Linked DNA regions of Homo sapiens: region 2 is linked to region 1. The links come from fine-mapping of genetic effects on gene expression. Tissue or cell type: cerebellar hemisphere. Region 1 holds a variant in brackets; the other region holds the start of a gene. All regions are shown on one strand. Distances are from middle to middle.

The links. PIP is the estimated chance that this variant, and not a neighbour inherited with it, causes the effect.
Region 2: RMND5B starts here. The variant in region 1 is fine-mapped to the expression of RMND5B in cerebellar hemisphere (GTEx, PIP above 0.99).

The regions. Positions count from the first base shown.
Region 1 is chr5:178,194,664-178,202,765 of GRCh38, reverse strand. No RefSeq gene overlaps it. Among named protein-coding and RNA genes, the nearest start is that of HNRNPAB, 5.8 kb to the left of the region's middle. The variant C/T (reference allele first, on the strand shown) is at 3,639.
Region 2 is chr5:178,126,298-178,134,393 of GRCh38, reverse strand. RMND5B (required for meiotic nuclear division 5 homolog B) reads right to left here and starts at 3,380. Exons shown (of 11, transcript NM_022762.5): 1 at 3,340-3,380; 2 at 3,018-3,157. It also overlaps a transcript of N4BP3 not described here. RefSeq lists enhancers at 1,747-2,276, 3,555-4,206, 4,207-4,858, 5,872-6,532, 7,195-7,855 and a silencer at 3,234-3,823.

The sequences.
Region 1 (8,102 bases):
CAAATGAGCCTCCTGCCTCAGCCTCCCAAGTAGCTGGAACCAGAAACGTGGCCACCACGCCAAGCGAATTTTTTGTAAACACAGGGTCTCCCTATGTTGCCCAGCTAGATCACCAGGTTTTTTTTTTCTTTGAGACGGGGGTCTCGCTCTGTCGCCCAGGCTGGAGTACAGTGGAGCCATCTCAGCTCACAGCAACCTCCACCTCCCAGGTTCTAGCGATTCTCCTGCCTCAGCCTCCTGAGTAGCTGGGATTGCAGGTGTGTTCCACCATGCCGGGCTAATTTTTGTATTTTTAGTAGAGATGGGGTTTTACCATGTTGACCAGGCTGGTCTTGAACTCCTGATCTCAGGTGGATCACCAATTTTAAATGAGAAAACTGAAGTCAAGAGCAGCGGCCCAAAGCTACACAACCAACTCAGGCACTAACTCCACCCAGGCACTGGAGTTGCCCTGAGAATGAAAAATGAAGATACGTGGATTTCAGGCTTCTCTAGGAAAGTCCGAAGATTTAGCTCACACTGTACTGCCTTCCCCCAAAGTAACAATCAAGTGCAGCTGGGATACCCATACCCAGGTGGGCAAGTGCCCTCTGGTTCACCCCAAGGCCACTCTTCACTGTCCCAGGCTAATTCCATAACAGGAAGTCACATATTTCCACACGACCTTACTCATGTCACTGAGATCTGGCAGCAAGGCTTTCAGGGCGGTCTCTAACAAACTGCTCACCCCACCTCCACCCCAGCCCTTGCCAACCCACAGAAATGAGGGCCAGGGCTGTGGCCTGCAGGAGATGATGGGCACAGCTCCCCAAGCAGTGAAGGTAATTCAGGAAATTAAGTTCAAAGTCAAATAGTGTAGGTGCAGCCCAAAGACATTACTGCAGGCATAAATTCCCTTAATCTTCCACGTGGATTTCTTTAGCACGACTCAGAAACACTTTCAGTGACGTGTAAAGTCTGAGGATACAACATTTGGACAGCGCTTAGCAGTTTGCAAAATGCTTTCACCAACCTTGCTTTACTGGAGCTTCAAAATAGCTTTGTGCAGTTACCCATATTTTATACACAAGAATACTGAAACCACAGCTAAAACTGTGGCCATGAAACCAACACGTCCAACTCCACATTGGGGATTGTTTCCAGGGCTCCTGGCTACTGTGGGACAAGGTGTGTCTGAGCTTCTGAGTTCCTTGATGTAAATTAGATCTCCTATCAAAGATCTAATTTATTCTGAGGCTCAGCTGGGCGTGGTGGCTCACGCCCGTAATCCCACCACTTTGGTAAGCCAAGGCAGGAGAATCCCATGAGGCCAGGAGTTTGAGACCAGCCTGAGCAACATGGTGGAACCCCCATCTCTACTAAAAATACAAAAAAAAGTCTGGGCATGGTGGCCCAGGCCTGTAGTCCCCCCTGCTCGGGAGGCTGAGGCACAAGAATCACTCGAACCTGGGAGATGGAGGTTGCATCGAGCCGAGATCGCACCACTACACTCCAGGCTAAGTGACACAGCGAGACTCTGTCTCAAAATAAATAAATAAATAAATAAAGAATCCTGAAGCTCAAATAAGGTAATGGCTTAGAAAACACTTCATAAACTAGAAAGAACTGCAGGCAGGTAGGGGTCAGTCTCAGCAAAAAATAAAAAATGCCGGGCCGGGTGCGGTGGCTCACGCCTGTAATCCCAGCACTTTGGGAGGCCGAGGCAGGCGGATCGAGACCATCCTGGCTAACACGGTGAAACCCTGTCTTTACTAAAAATACAAAAATTAGCCGGGCGTGGTGGGGGGGCGCCTGTAGTCCCAGCTACTCGGGAGGCTGAGGCAGGAGAATGGTGTGAACCCGGGAGGCAGAGCTTGCAGTGAGCCGAGATCGTGCCACTGCACTCCAGCCTGGGGGACAGAGCCAGACTCTGTCTCAAAAAAATGAAATTACATAAATAAATAAATAAAGCCTTCATATTGTATCCAAGGGTGTTTCTGCCAGAGGCAAGGCACCACACTGTTTGGGAAACAGCAGGAAGTCCTTTTGACACAAGCCTCCCTACTTTTGTTATTAGGTTCAGTTACAGACCCTGAGTAGAGGGCAATTCCATGACAGTGAGGTTCTCAAGTCAGCCAGGAGCTCAGTTACCCCTGAAAATCTCTTAAAAGGCCCATAGAGTATACACTCCCTGGGTTTGGGCTATTCAGAATATATGCATAAAATGTGGACAATCTCCAATCTAGGAAAGGACATACACAAAATGCTTTTGGATTGTTTTTTAATTACATGAATTGATTTTTCTCACATTCTTTTTTTCGGTTTTTTGGCTGAGCCTGCAAGGTGGAAGTTGCATGAGTTAACTACAAATATATCGTGCCTCTGCTGTGGCCAACTCCCGCTGCAGCCACTTTCCCCGCTCCACCAAACTCCAGCTCCCCTGCTTCAGAGGAGTCCTCTAGCCAGATGAATCTTTCTAAAACACAAGTCATAAGATCTGAGAGCTACAGTGAAAAAAGGAAAAACTGAAAATGCAAGTCCCATCTTGTCACTACCTCTGTGTGAAAACCCTGGCTGACTTCCCAGTGCTGTCAGGATGAAGTCTTAGCCTTGACTTCGGGTGAATACGAGTGGGACAGACAGTTGGGGCTCCCAGAAATCTGTGCCCCCACCTTGCCAGCCTCCCCTGCTGTGTGGTCTGTGAGTGGAAGAGTTCCTTTCAGGCTGGGGCCATGGAGACTGGGGGCCTTGTCCAGACTTCCCTTCACCCCGCGACCATGTGTTCTACACGGCTGAGCTACCTCATGGAGAAGAGCTGTTCGGCCCACATCAGATTTGACACAAGCTGAAAATGAACCTGTACTGGGCCTGGCACTGAGATTTGGGATTTTTTTTTTCTCTCAAACTGTAGCCTGGCCTACTCTCACCCTCCCACCTGGCCTATAAGGTCCAGCATGAGTCGCCTCAGCTGCACCTCCTTGCCACTCTCCACTCCAGCTGTGCTGAATTTCTTTTACTTCCTAGAACTCACCAGTGCCCTCCTGCCTTTGGGCCTTTTCACCTGCTGTTTTCTCTACCTGGAACAGTCTTCCCAAATGTCACCTAACTACTGTACACATTGGGAGTTGAATTGTGTGCCCCCGCAAAAGACATGTTCACAGCCGGGCATGGTGGCTTACTCCTGTAATCCCAGCATTTTGGGAGGCCGAGGTGGGCGGATCACGAGGTCAGGAGATCGAGACCATCCTGGCTAACAGTGAAACCCCGTCTCTACTAAAAATACAAAAAATTAGCCAGGCGTGGTGGTGGGCACCTGTAGTCCCAGCTACTCAGGAGGCTGAGGCAGGAGAATGGCGTGAACCCGGGAGGTGGAGCTTGCAGTGAGCCAAGATCATGCCACTGCACTCCAGCCTGGGCGACAGAGTGAGACTCCGTCTCAAAAACAAAAAAAAAGTTACGTTCAAATCCTAACTCCTGGTGCCTCTGAATGTGGCCATACTTGGAAATAGTCTTTTCAGGTGGAATCAAGTTAAGATGAGGTCAAACTGGAGTATGAGGATTAAAGGCCCATATGGGAGTAGGGTGGGCCTTTAATCCTGTATGACTGGTGAACTTTGGAGGGGGAAAGACAGACACACGGGAAAAATGCCACATGACCA[C/T]GGAGGCAGAGATTGCAGTGATGCATCTATAGGCCAAGAAGCACTGAGGATTGCTGGCAACACCGGAAACTAGGAGCGGGGCAAAGATCCTCCCTTGAAGCCTTCAGAGGGAGCACGGGCCCTGCTGACAGCTTGATTTTAGACTTCCAGCCTCAAGAACTGTGAGAGAATACAGCTGGGTTGCTGTAAGCCACCGGGTTGCGGCACTTGATCACAGCAGCCCCAGAAACCAAACACAACATCCAACAGACTTCCTCCTCCTCCTATGGGAAGTGTTGTGTCATACCCCGAGGAAGGGTGCCCCTCAGAACATGGGCCACACTGTTGACATTGACTGTGAGCGCCCTGAGACCCTGCATCGGGTCTGTCTCCTCCACCCTGACTCCTACGGTGGGCACGCCAGTGCCTGCAGAATGAATACGAGATCTTTTTTTTTTTTTTTTTTTTTGAGACAGAGTCTCGCTCTGTTGCCCAGGCTGGAGTGCAGTGGCATGATCTCAGCTCACTGCAACCTCTGCCCCCTGGGTTCAAGCAATTCTCATGCCTCAGTCTCCCGAGTAGCTGGGATTGCAGGTGTGCGCCACCACACCTGGCTAATTTTGTACTTTTAGTAGAGACAGGGTTTCACTGTGTTGGCCAGGCTGCTCGCAAACTCCTGACCTCTGGAGTTCGGCCTCCCAAAGTGCTGGGATTACAGGCGTAAGCCACTTCGCCCAGCCCCAAATCTCATCCTGAATTGTAATCCCCATAATCCCCATGTGTCATTGGAGGGACCTGGTGGGAGGTAATCGAATCGTGGGGGCGGTTTCCCCCATGCTGTTCTAGTGATAGTGAGTACTCACGAGATCTGATGGTTTTATAAGCATCTGGCATTTCCCCTGCTGGCACTCATTCTCTCTCCTGCTGCCCTGTGAAGAGGTGCCTTCCGCCATGATTGTAAGTTTCCTGAGGCCTCCCCACCATGCGGAACTGAGTCAATTAAACCTCTTTCCTTTATAAATTACCAAGTCTCAGGTATTTCCTTATAGCAATGTGAAAACAGACTAATACTGTTTCAAACCAGCACCTTGTGGACTAAAGTTGACTCTTGAACCTACTTGCTTGCCCTGTACAGTGCTTTGTTCTGTTTTTGTTTTTGAGATGAGGTCTCACTGTGTCGCCCAGGCTGGAGTGCAGTCACTATTCACCTGCGTGATTGCAGCTCAGTGTAGCCTCAAACTACTGGCCTCAAGTGATCCTCCCGCTTCAACCTCCCTAGCAGCTGAGACTAAAATTGCACACCACCTCACCCAGTCCTACACAGTGTTTGGCTCATTTGAAAAAATTGTTTGCCAACATTTATGGATTATGACATTTCTTTCATATATACATATACACACATACACATATATATGTGTGTGTATATATACGTATATATGTGTATATGTGTATATATGTGTATATATGTATATATATAATATATACATATATATGCGTATATATGTACACATATATACGTATATATATACATGTATATACATATATATACACACACACATATATATACACATATATGTATATTTTTTAGATGGAGTCTCACTGTGTCGCCCAGGCTGGAGTGCAGTGGCATGATCTTGGCTCACTACAACCTTCACCTCCTGGGTTCAAGCGATTCTTGTGCCTTAGCTTCCCAAGTAGCTGGGATTACAAGCATGCACCACCACGCTAATTTTTGTATTTCTAGTAGAGAAAGGGTTTCCTCATGTTGGCCAGGCAGATCTCGAACTCCTGACCTCGTGATCCACCCGCCTCAGCCTCCCAAAGTGCTAGGATTACAGGTGTGAGCCACCGCGCCCTGCCGGATGATGGCATTTCTACACAAGGTTATACGTCCAGTTACTTTTGAAAAATTGTCAGCTAAGGTCACACTGGGCCACAGTGTCCTGTGTCCAGAATCAGTGGGAGCTGAGTCACAGTGACCCCCAGCGGATGAGGCAGGCACTGTCCAGCTAAACCCAGCCCCCACCATGTTCTAATGTCTTCCTCCAGGGTCCCACTAAACCTATTGACATTGACCAAGAGCATCTGAGATGTGGATCCCTAAGCAGACCTCCATGAAGTTCAGCTTCTTCATCTTTTTTTACATTTTTTCTGAGACAGGGTCTTGCTCTGAGTGCAGTGATGTGATCACGGCTCGCCTCGACCTCCTGGGCTCAAGTGATCCTCCCGTCTCAGCCTCCCACTTAGCTGGGACTACAGGCATGCACCACCACACCCAGCTTATTTATTTATTTAGCTAGGGACAGGGTCTCCCTGTGTTGCCCAGGCTAGTCTCAAACTCCTGGGCTCAAGCCATCTGCCTGCCTTAACTTCCCAAAGGGCTGGGATTACAGGCATGAGCCACAGCTCCCGACCTACTTCATCTTAAAAAAAAAGAGAATGGCACCTGTCTCTCCACCATCCTGCAGGGCTATGGGAGGACGGCTGCTAAGGGTTTAGAACAGCGCCCGCTGTGAGAGCTGCTGTGACTGCTAACAGCAACAGTGGAAGCATCCAAGGGAACATTCCTTTGCCTGCTGACACCCCCAGGCCCCCAGCCACCCCGCAACAATATATCTCAAAATACATCTCAAGTCAAATCCTTGAAACAGACAAGTAAGAGATCTGGAGAGAGAATCTGCTGGCGGCCTCCCTAAAATCACACATTCTTGCCACAGCCACCCCACGCCCTGCTGAGTCTCAGAGGCAGCCTCTGTCCATCAGAAACCAATCAGAAATGGCTAGAGCCCTATACTGGAATCAGTCCTTAATGAAGTATGTGATTCACATACAAAACCCTAATCCTCCCAGTTTCCTGGAGAGCTCACAAAGCTGCACACAGTGGGCACAGCTCACACAGGGGCCCGGCCTCATCTGCAACATTATCCCCTGTGTAGTCTTTGAAACTTCAGACTCCCTGACCTCTGGGGCTGGACTCTCACTTTTATGAAGCATTCTAGGCACCAGTCATTGGGACAGGGACAGATTTTAGGACTCACTACTGCAGATTAGGTGGGGAGAAAGCCTATTAAACCGGGAAATTTCTGTCTCCCTCTGAGAGGCAGCAGTGGCTCCTAAAAGAGGCTTTGTTTATGTTTATGTCTGCATTGCCACTAGGTCAGTGTGGACCTGCGGGCTCTTTCTTTGAGCCTCAGTTTCTTTTTTTCTTTCTTTTTTTTTTTTTTTTTTAGACAGGGTCTTACTCTCTGGCCCAGGCTGGATTGCAATGGTGTGATCTCGGCTCACTGCAACCTCCATCTCCCAAGTTCAAGCGATTCTCCTGCCTCAGCCTCCCTAGTAGCTGGGATTACATGCGCCCGCCACCATGCCCAGCTAATTCTTGTATTTTTAGTAGAGACGGGGTTTCGCCATGTTGGCCAGGCTGGTCTCAAACTCCTGACCTCACGTGATCCACCCACCCCAGCCTCCCAAAGTGCTGGAATTATAGGCATGAGCCACCGTGCCCAGATTGAGCCTCAGTTTCTTTTTTTTTTTTTTTTTTTTTGAGACAGACTCTCACTCTGTCGCCCAGGCTGGAGTGCAGTGGTGCAATCTCGGCTCACTGCAAGCTCCGCCTGCTGGGTTCACACCATTCCCCTGCCTCAGCCTCCGGAGTAGCTGGAACTACAGGCACCCGCCACCATGCCCAGCTAACTTTTTGTATTTTTTTTGGTAGAGATGGGGTTTCACCGTGTTAGCCAGGATGGTCTCAATCTCCTGACCTCGTGATTCGCCCGCCTCGGCCTCCCAAAGTGCTGAGACTACAGGCGTGAGCCACCGTGCCCGGCCGAGCCTCAGTTTCTGATTCCACAACAATTCATCTATTCACTCATGTATTTACTCAATTGAATTGTTGACGCTGCAATTGCCAGCAACATGCCCTTGACCTCCAGGACAGACTGGGTCTGTGAACTCTAAACCCTCATGCATAACTGTCCCTTAAACATCTTTACTGAGGCTAAGCAGGGGTTCTCCAGCAGAGATGGAAAAGAAGGGGTGCAGGCAGAGAAGACGACACAGCTCAGGTTCCAAGCTTGAGAAAGCAGAGGCTGCTTGGAGAACTGCAAGTTGCTCCACACGATGAAGAGGAGCTGGGACAGCGCGGCTGGGCAAGGGCTTTGGGTGCCACGACAAAGGGTTCAGATTTATCCCGCAGGAAACTGGAAGTCAGTGAATACTGCTATGGCGGTGGTCCAGTGGAGGAAATGGGAAGGAGGGGATGAACAGAGACATCGAGGAGGGTGAGTTGGCAGAACGTTGTGTTTGTGTGTGGTGACAACCCCCAACTCCATACATGGAGCAGGATGGGCAATAAGGCTGGAACACTGGACCAGAGCCGCTTGGTGGAGGGCCTTGGACTCAGAGGCTTGCTTCTCTCAAGGAGAAACCCTTTCACCCCCTGCTTCCTTGCTATGCCTCCTGCTGGTGGCACCAATTGTCTTGACC
Region 2 (8,096 bases), 68 kb after region 1:
TGCCCAACACTACCATGGTTGACATATAAACCCTTTGCAATAATGTATTTGCTTCCTTTGCACAAGTTGTTCCCATTTTTAGAGTGCCCTCTGCACTTCTTTGTATAGAGTACGTAAGCTGTAGTTAAATTATCACCTCCCCTTGAGCCCTCAGTGAAATCTCCCTGCCTCCTTTTCTGCTTCATAACCTGGCAAGAGTGGCCACACCACACCCATCGAGTCCTCAGCTACTGCAGCACAGTAACAGCCTGTCCACGTCAGCCTCCTCCATTGGTCTGTGAGCTGCTCGATGGCTGGAATGTAGTCTTGTCCTTTCTCCCCCTCAGTGCCCAGACTAGGGCCTGGTCCATGGTAGATGCTCAGTAAACATTTGTTGATTGGGGCAGGGCGCGGTGGCTCACGCCTGTAATCCCAACACTTTGGGAGGCCGAGGCGAGTGGATCATGAGGTCAGGAGATCAAGACCATCCTGGCTAACACGGTGAAACCCCATCTCTACTAAAAAAATACAAAAAATTAGCCGGGTGTGGTGGCGGGCACCCGTAGTCCCAGCTACTCGGGAGGCTGGGGCAGGAGAATGGTGTGAACCCGGGAGGTGGAGCTTGCAGTGAGCCAAGATTGTGCCACTGCACTCCAGCCTGGGAGACAGCGTGAGACTCCGTCTCCAAAAAAAAAAAAAATTGTTGATTGGCCGGCGCAGTGGCTCACACCTGTAATCCCAGCACTTTGGGAGGCTGAGGTGGGTGGCTCACCTGAGGTCAAGAGTTTGAGACCCGCCTGACCAACATGGTGAAACTTCGTCTCTACTAAAAATACAAAAATTACCGAGGCGTGGTGGCGGGCACCTGTAATCCCAGCTACTCAGGAGGCTGAGGCAGGACAATCGCTTGAACCTAGGAGGTGGAGGTTGCAGTGAGCCAAGACCACGCCATTGCACTCCATCCTGGGCAACAAGAGCAAAAACTCCGTCTCAAATTTAAAAAAACACACACACACATTTGCTGATTAAATGACACATCCATTTCCTAACTGCGCTGGAGAACCTGAGCTCAAATGTGTAGGAGTGGGTAGAAAAGAGACATGAGTGAAATATTAAAATCTCCACAAAGGCATGTATGGAGGTTTATCCTGGAGTATTTAGCATCCTGAAACAAGGGGCTCCTGTGTAAGGAGAAAGGAAGTTTGAGCAAATCATAAAGGTCCCTTTTGCCTGACAAAGATTAGACAACATCGGCTGGGCGTGGTGGCTCATGCCTGTAATCCCAGCACTTTGGGAGGCCGAGGCAGGCGGATCACAAGGTCAGGAGTTTGAGACCAGCCTGACCAACATGGCGAAACCCTGTCTCTACTAAAAATACAAAAATTAGCTGGGCGTGGTGGTGCGTGCCTGTAATCCCAGCTACTCGGGAGGCTGAGGCAGGAGAATTGCTTGAACCCAGGAGGCAGAGGTTGCAGTGAGCTGAGATGGCGCCACTGCACTCCAGCCTGGGCGACAGAGTGAGACTGTCTCAAAAAAACAAACAAACAAACAAAAACAAAAAAAAAAGATTAGACAACCTCCATTGACCCAATTCTTAACGCTTTTTTTTTTTTTTTTTTTTTTTTGTGAGGCAGGGTCTCTTCAGTTAATAGGGTTGCTTAAAAAAAAAAAAAAAAAGAGAGAGACAGGGTCTCAATCTGTTTCCCAGGCCAGAGTGCTGTGGTACAATCAGGGCTCACTGCAGCCTCGACCTCCTGGGCTCAAGTGATCCTCCCACCTCAGCCCCCCACCCCAAGAAGCTGGGACTACAGGTGCACCATGTAGTCCCACCATGAACACTCCTGAGTTCATGACACATGTAAGTGGTCCATGCAGGGCCTTTTCTCCTTTGTGTTTATTTATGTATTCCCTTTTGTCCCTATTCTTCCCCTCTCTCCCCACCACACCTGGCTAATTTTTTTGTTGTTTGTTTTTGAGACAGAGTCTTACTCTGTCGCCCAGGCTGGAGTACAGTGGCACGATCTTGGCTCATTGCAACCTTTGCTTCCCAGTTTCAAGCGATTCTCCTGCCTCAGCCTCCCAAGTAGCTGGAATTACAGACACCTGCCACCACACCCGGCTAAATTTTGTATTTTTAGTAGAGACGGGGTTTCACCATGTTGGCCAGGCTGGTCTTGAACTCCTGGCCTCAAGTGATCCTCCCGCCTTGGCCTCCCAAAGTGCTGGGGTTACAAGCGTGAGCCACTGCGCCCAGCCTAATTTTTTGGAGCGACAGGGTTTCACCATGTTGGCCAGGTTGGTCTTGAAGTGCTGAGCTCAAGCCGTCTGCCAGTCTCAGCCTCCCAAAGTGCTGGAATTACGGGCGTGAACCACCGTGCCCAGCCAATTCTTATGCTTTTGCAGCCGCGACCTCCATCCACTCTCTACCCTACATGTCACTCCTCTGCTTAAAACCAAAAGATTTCCACTGTACTTAGAAAAAACTCCACATTCCTCTCTCTGACCTACAGACTCTATGTGACCAAACCCCAATTATCCGACCTCATCTCCTACCACTCTTTCCCTTTCTTACCATACTTTAGCCACACTAGCTTGCTTTCTGTTCCTTGACTATACTCTCAGTTGATTTCTGCCCTAGGGCCTTCACACTGGCTGTTCCCGCTGCCTGGACCACTCTCTTCCCGTATCTTCCTAAGCCTGCCTCCTAATTTGGGTCTCAACGCAAATGTCCCGTCCTCAGAGATGCTCTGCTAGACCACAGTATCTAATACTGACCCCTCCGCCCCACCCTCACACCAGTTACCGTGTCATATCGCCCTCCTCCATTTTTTTTTTTTTTTTACTATACAGTCCTACTTGAAGTTTCTAATCTTTCTTTTCTCATTAACCAAAACTGGAGGGAGGAAAAAGCCCATCATTTTCCCTGGACAGCAGCGCCTACTGGGAGTTTCACCCGCATTAACATGCAAACGACAGGCAAACTCCTAGTCATCCTTCCAAAGACCCTGCTCCATAGCCCTGCCGAGCCCGGTGCGCACCTGCTCACTTCCGACCCAGCGCGGTCGCACGAGGACTGGACGTTTGAGTCCGAGCAACTCCCCCCGGCTGAGGCGGCTCTTCGGGGGCTGGGCCGGGACCTATGAGTCTGGGACTCCAGCTCCCGGCCCAGGGCCGACAACTGCGAAGAGAACAAGCCCAAGGGCAGATTGTTCGGGGCTTAGTCGTGGGTAGCAGGGGTTCTGGAGAAGGCTGGGGCCCGGGAGGCCGGCCGAGCTTTCCCCGCCGCGCGCCTCAGCTCCGCCGGCCGCTGTGCCCGCCCTCGGCCCGCACCTGCCGGCTCCCAAGCCCGCCCGCTCTCACCTCGCCCCGCAGCCCCGGCCCCGGCTTCCGGCGCCACTGTCATCGGAACCGGAAGCCGCGGCGGGCGATCGGCGGCCCGGGCCCGCCCATTGGCGGTTTTGCGGAGGGGTGGCCGTCCCACGAGCCCGCGGCTTTGCGCCTCACCGCCGAGGCTCCCCGCCGCGCATGCCGAGTGGAGTCGCCCGCGGGAACCGGGCGGCGGCCAGAAAAGCCGCGCCTGTAGTCCTCTGGGGGTCGCGCCTGGTCGTTTCCAGGTTCCGAGTCCCTCCGGCCCGGCCCCGGGCCTCCCAGTCGGCGGAAGCCCCTGGCCGCGACCGCTCCTCGCCGGCGGGCGGGTTCCCCACCCGGCAGAGGCGTCGGCCTCGCACTCAACCCAGCACCCGACTCCCGGGTCAGAAGCCCCAAGCCCCAAGTGGTTACGCTTACAGCGCTGCCCGCCCTGCTCAGTGAGGGCGGCGCGGGGGCCGTGAGGGGCAGTGGCTGGGCTAGGTGCGCACCGGCCTCGGCAGGGCTGTGGAGCAGGGTCTTTGGAAGGATGACTAGGAGTTTGCCTGTCGTTTGCATGTTAATGCGGGTGAAACTCCCAGTAGGCGCTGCTGTCCAGGGAAAATGATGGGCTTTTTCCTCTCTCCAGTTTTGGTTAATGAGAAAAGAAAGATTAGAAACTTCAAGTAGGACTGTGAACAGGCTTAGGGATCCTGGACAGAGCCTAGAAATCTCAGGAGAACTGAGAGCTCTTGAAATATGAAGTGATGCTTAAAAAAAAAAAGAAAACTCCAGGCCGGGCGCGGCGGCTCACGCCTGTAATCCCAGCACTTTGGGAGGCCGAGGCGGGCGGATCAGGAGGTCAGGAGATCGAGACCATCCTGGCTAACACGGTGAAACCCCGTCTCTACTAAAAATACAAAAAATTGGCCGGGCGAGGTGGGGGGCGCCTGTAGTCCCAGCCACTCGGGAGGCTGAGGCAGGAGAATGTCGTGAACCCGGGAGGCGGAGCTCGGAGTGAGCCGAGACGGCGCCACTGCACTCCAGCCTGGGCGACAGAGCGAGACTCCGTCTCAAAAAAAAAGAATAGAAAACTCCGGGCCGGGCGGCTCACGCCTGTAATCCCAGCACTTTGGGAGGCTGAGGCGGGCGGAACATAAGGTCAGGAGTTCGAGACCAGCCTGTCCAATATGGTGAAACCCCGTCTGTACTAAAAATACAAAAATTAGCCGGGAATGGTGGCAGGCGCCTGTAGTCCCATGATCCTAGCTACTCGGGAGACTGAGGCAGGAGAATCGTTTGAACCCGAGAGGCGGAGGTTGCAGTGAGCCGAGATCGCGCCATTGCACTCCAGCCTAGGCGACAGAGCGAGACTCCGTCTCAAAAAAAAAAAAAAGAAAAGAAAAGAAAACTCCTTTCCTGTCCCAGCCTTTCTGGTCCCCTTAGCCCGAACTTAATCTGCCCACTGGGTATTCAACAGAATTCAGTTCTGCGGAGGAGGGGGTCCAGCCCTACCCTGCCGCCCTGTGTTGGTCGCTGTCCTGGGGAACGGGGGAAGGGGAGAAGATGGGAGCTGCCCATCTGCCCTAAGGAGGAAGGGTGAGGGTTAGGAAGGAGGAGGGAACAGGCACTGACCCCAAACCCAGGTCCAGACTGAATTTTCTTTTTCTTTTTTTGAGATGAAGTCTTGCTCTGTTGCCCAGGCTGGAGTGCAGTGGTGTGATCTCGGTTCACTGCAACCTCCACCTCCAAGCTTCGAGCGATTGTCCTGCCTCAGCTCCATGAGTAACAGATTACAGACATGCTCCACCATGCCCGGCTAATTTTTGTATTTTTAGTAGAGAGGGGATTTTGCCATGTTGGCCAGGCTGGTCTCAAACTCCTGACCTCAGGTGATCCACCCACCACAGCCTCCCAAATTGCTGGGATTACAGGCATGAACCACCACACCCAGCCCCAGATTGAATTTTCTATCCCGGACCCTCTGCTCTGGAGGGAAAGAGTAGAGAAGTCCCCACTCCTCCTCAGGCCTCAGCTGGGACTAGGAACAGCCCTGGAGAAAAAGCCAGGTCTCTGTGTTGCCCACTTCTGCTCCCTTTTTGGTTGGGCCTCATTCCAGGCCATCCTCCCCTTGAATCCTCCATGCCTTCCCCTCCCTCCCCTTTGCACAACTTACTTTTTTTTTTTTTTTCAAAATAGAGAGGTGGTCTCCCTATGTTGCCCAAGCTGGTTGCGAACTCTTGGCCTCAAGAGATCCTCCCCTCTCAGCCTTTGGAAGTATTGGGATTACAGGAATGAGCCACCATTCCTTGCCCTGTTTTCTTTTTTTTTTTTTTTTTTGAGACGGAGTCTTGCTCTGTCGCCCAGGCTGGAGTACAATGGCATAATCTTGGCTCACTGCAACCTCCGCCTGCCAGGTTCAAGCAATTCTCCTGCTTCAGCCTCCTGAGTAGCTGGGACTACAGGTGCACACCACCATGCCTGGCTAATTTTTTGTATTGTTAGTAGAGACGGGGTTTCACCATGCTGGCCAGGCTGGTCTTGAACTCCTAACCTCGCGATCCGCCTGCTTCGGCCTCCCGAAGTGCTGGGACTACAGGCGTGAGCCACCGCACCCAGCCGACCTGTTTTCTTTATAGCACTTGGAAGTTATCTTGCGTGTTTATTTGTTCATTCTGTCTTCTGGCCCCCACTCCCATCACCCTCTTTGGGGCCAGACATGGTGGCTCACGCCTGTAATCCCAGCACTTTAGGAGGCTGAGGAGGGAGGAATGCTTGTGCCTAGGAGTTCTAGACCAGTCTGGACAACATAGGGAGACCCTGTCTGTACAAATAATACAAAAATTAGCCGGGTGTGGTGGTGCACATCTGTAGTCTCAGCTACTTGGGAGGCTGAGATGGGAGGCTGCCTAGGAGGTCGAGGCTGCAGTGAGCAGTGATCGCGCCACTACTCCAGCCTAGATAACAGAGTGTGAGAGACCCTGTCTCAAAAACAAACAAACATGGGCCAGGCGTGGTGGCTCATACCTGTAATCCCAGTACTTTGGGAGGCCAAGGCGGGTGGATCATTTGAGGTCAGGAATTCAAGACCAGCCTGGCCAACATGGTGAAACCCTGTCTCTACTGAAAATACAAAAAAAAAAAAAAATTAGCCAGGCATAGTGGCAGACACCTGTAATCCCAGCTACTTCGGAGGCCGAGGCAGGAGAATCGCTTGAGCCCGGGAGGCGGAGGTTGCGGTGAGCCAAGATTGCACCACTACACTCCAGCCTGGGCAACAGAGTGAGACCCTGTCTCAAAACAAAACAAAAACGAACAACAAAAAAAAAAATTCCACCAGGCCCATGTTTTGTCTTCATCACTGCCTTATCGCCAACACCATATGCTTTGCACACAGGAGGTACTCAGAGATACTCAAGAAGCCAGTGTCCTCCACGTATACATAAGGAAACTGCGGCTCAAAAACCTTATGATATATAGCAGGGGAGAAGGCCCACAGCAGGACTGTGTGCCTGCAGGGGCGTCAGGAGGGCGGATCCCAGAGATGCCTGCCCAAGCATGAGGAGCCTGGGTGGCCCTGGCCCAAACGGAAGCCATAGGGGTGGAGAGTTGATTGAACCTTGCCTTGGTGCCAAGGGGCCCAAGCCACCTTCCAGCCAACCTGACCTCACAGGCTTTGGCAAATGCCCCAGGCTTCCCCACTTCCTCTCCGGGAGCCTTGGCCTGCCTCACAGCCAAGAAGGATGTGAGCAAAGTTGAGGTTCTCCCCCAGTATGTGGCCATCCTTGCATCTTGGTATTATTTTCAAGTGTGCACCAAGTTGTATTAAATAGTTGACTTTGTCCATCTTTCCCCATAGGGATTGTTTTTGATTTTTGTTAGGGATGGGGAGGATTCCTTCAAAGCAATCAATTCTCCCATTAATTCAGTAATAATTGAATTAACTTTTTGCCAGCGTAGAAGTTTTAAACATTCCCTGTATTCTCCGAAGCTTCAATAATTTGAGTCTCTGGAATAAAATTGACAGTAGACAGATTAATAGGAGAAAAGGCATGCAAATTTATTACATACATGCACAGGAGTCCCACAAAATGTGAGACTCTAGTAAGGGCCAGACTGATGAAGTCTAAATAGCATTTGAGCTCCAAAAACTGGGGCCTGAGGTTTCTGGGAGGAGGTGGCAGCAGACGCTAGGAGGTTGAGGGGAGGAAATGCATGGCAAACAAAGGCTGTCTTGTCATGCAGATAAAACCTCTCAAGCAGCCCAGTCCTCAGAAGAGATGGTATCACCTTCAGTATCCTTTCCTGTGAGTTAATTGTCCATGTTTTATGAGATGCTAGGGAAAGGGCTCAAGACAATGGCATTCCTTCTGCAGGAACTTCCCTTAGAAACAAAAGAGAACATCAGAGAAGGCCCCTCCCTGCGCTTCAGGAGGGTTTTGGGAGGGAAAAGGAGTGAGCGATGGTCAGATACTTTAGTTCAAAGCATTCAGCCTCCCACAGCTTCATACTTTGGGGTATCATTTTCTGAGCCCCACCACCAATTTCCTAGGATAGGATTTTTAAAATTTAACTCAATAAATGCAGGGGTGGGCCAAGCGCCGTGGCCCACGCCCATAATCCGAGCACTTTGGGAGGCTGAGGCGGGTGGATCACGAGGTTAGGAGATCGAGACCATCCTGGCTAACATGGTGAAATCCTGTCTGTACTAAAAATACAAAAAATTAGCCAGGCGTCGTGGCAGGCGCCTGTAGTCTCAGCTACTCAGGAGG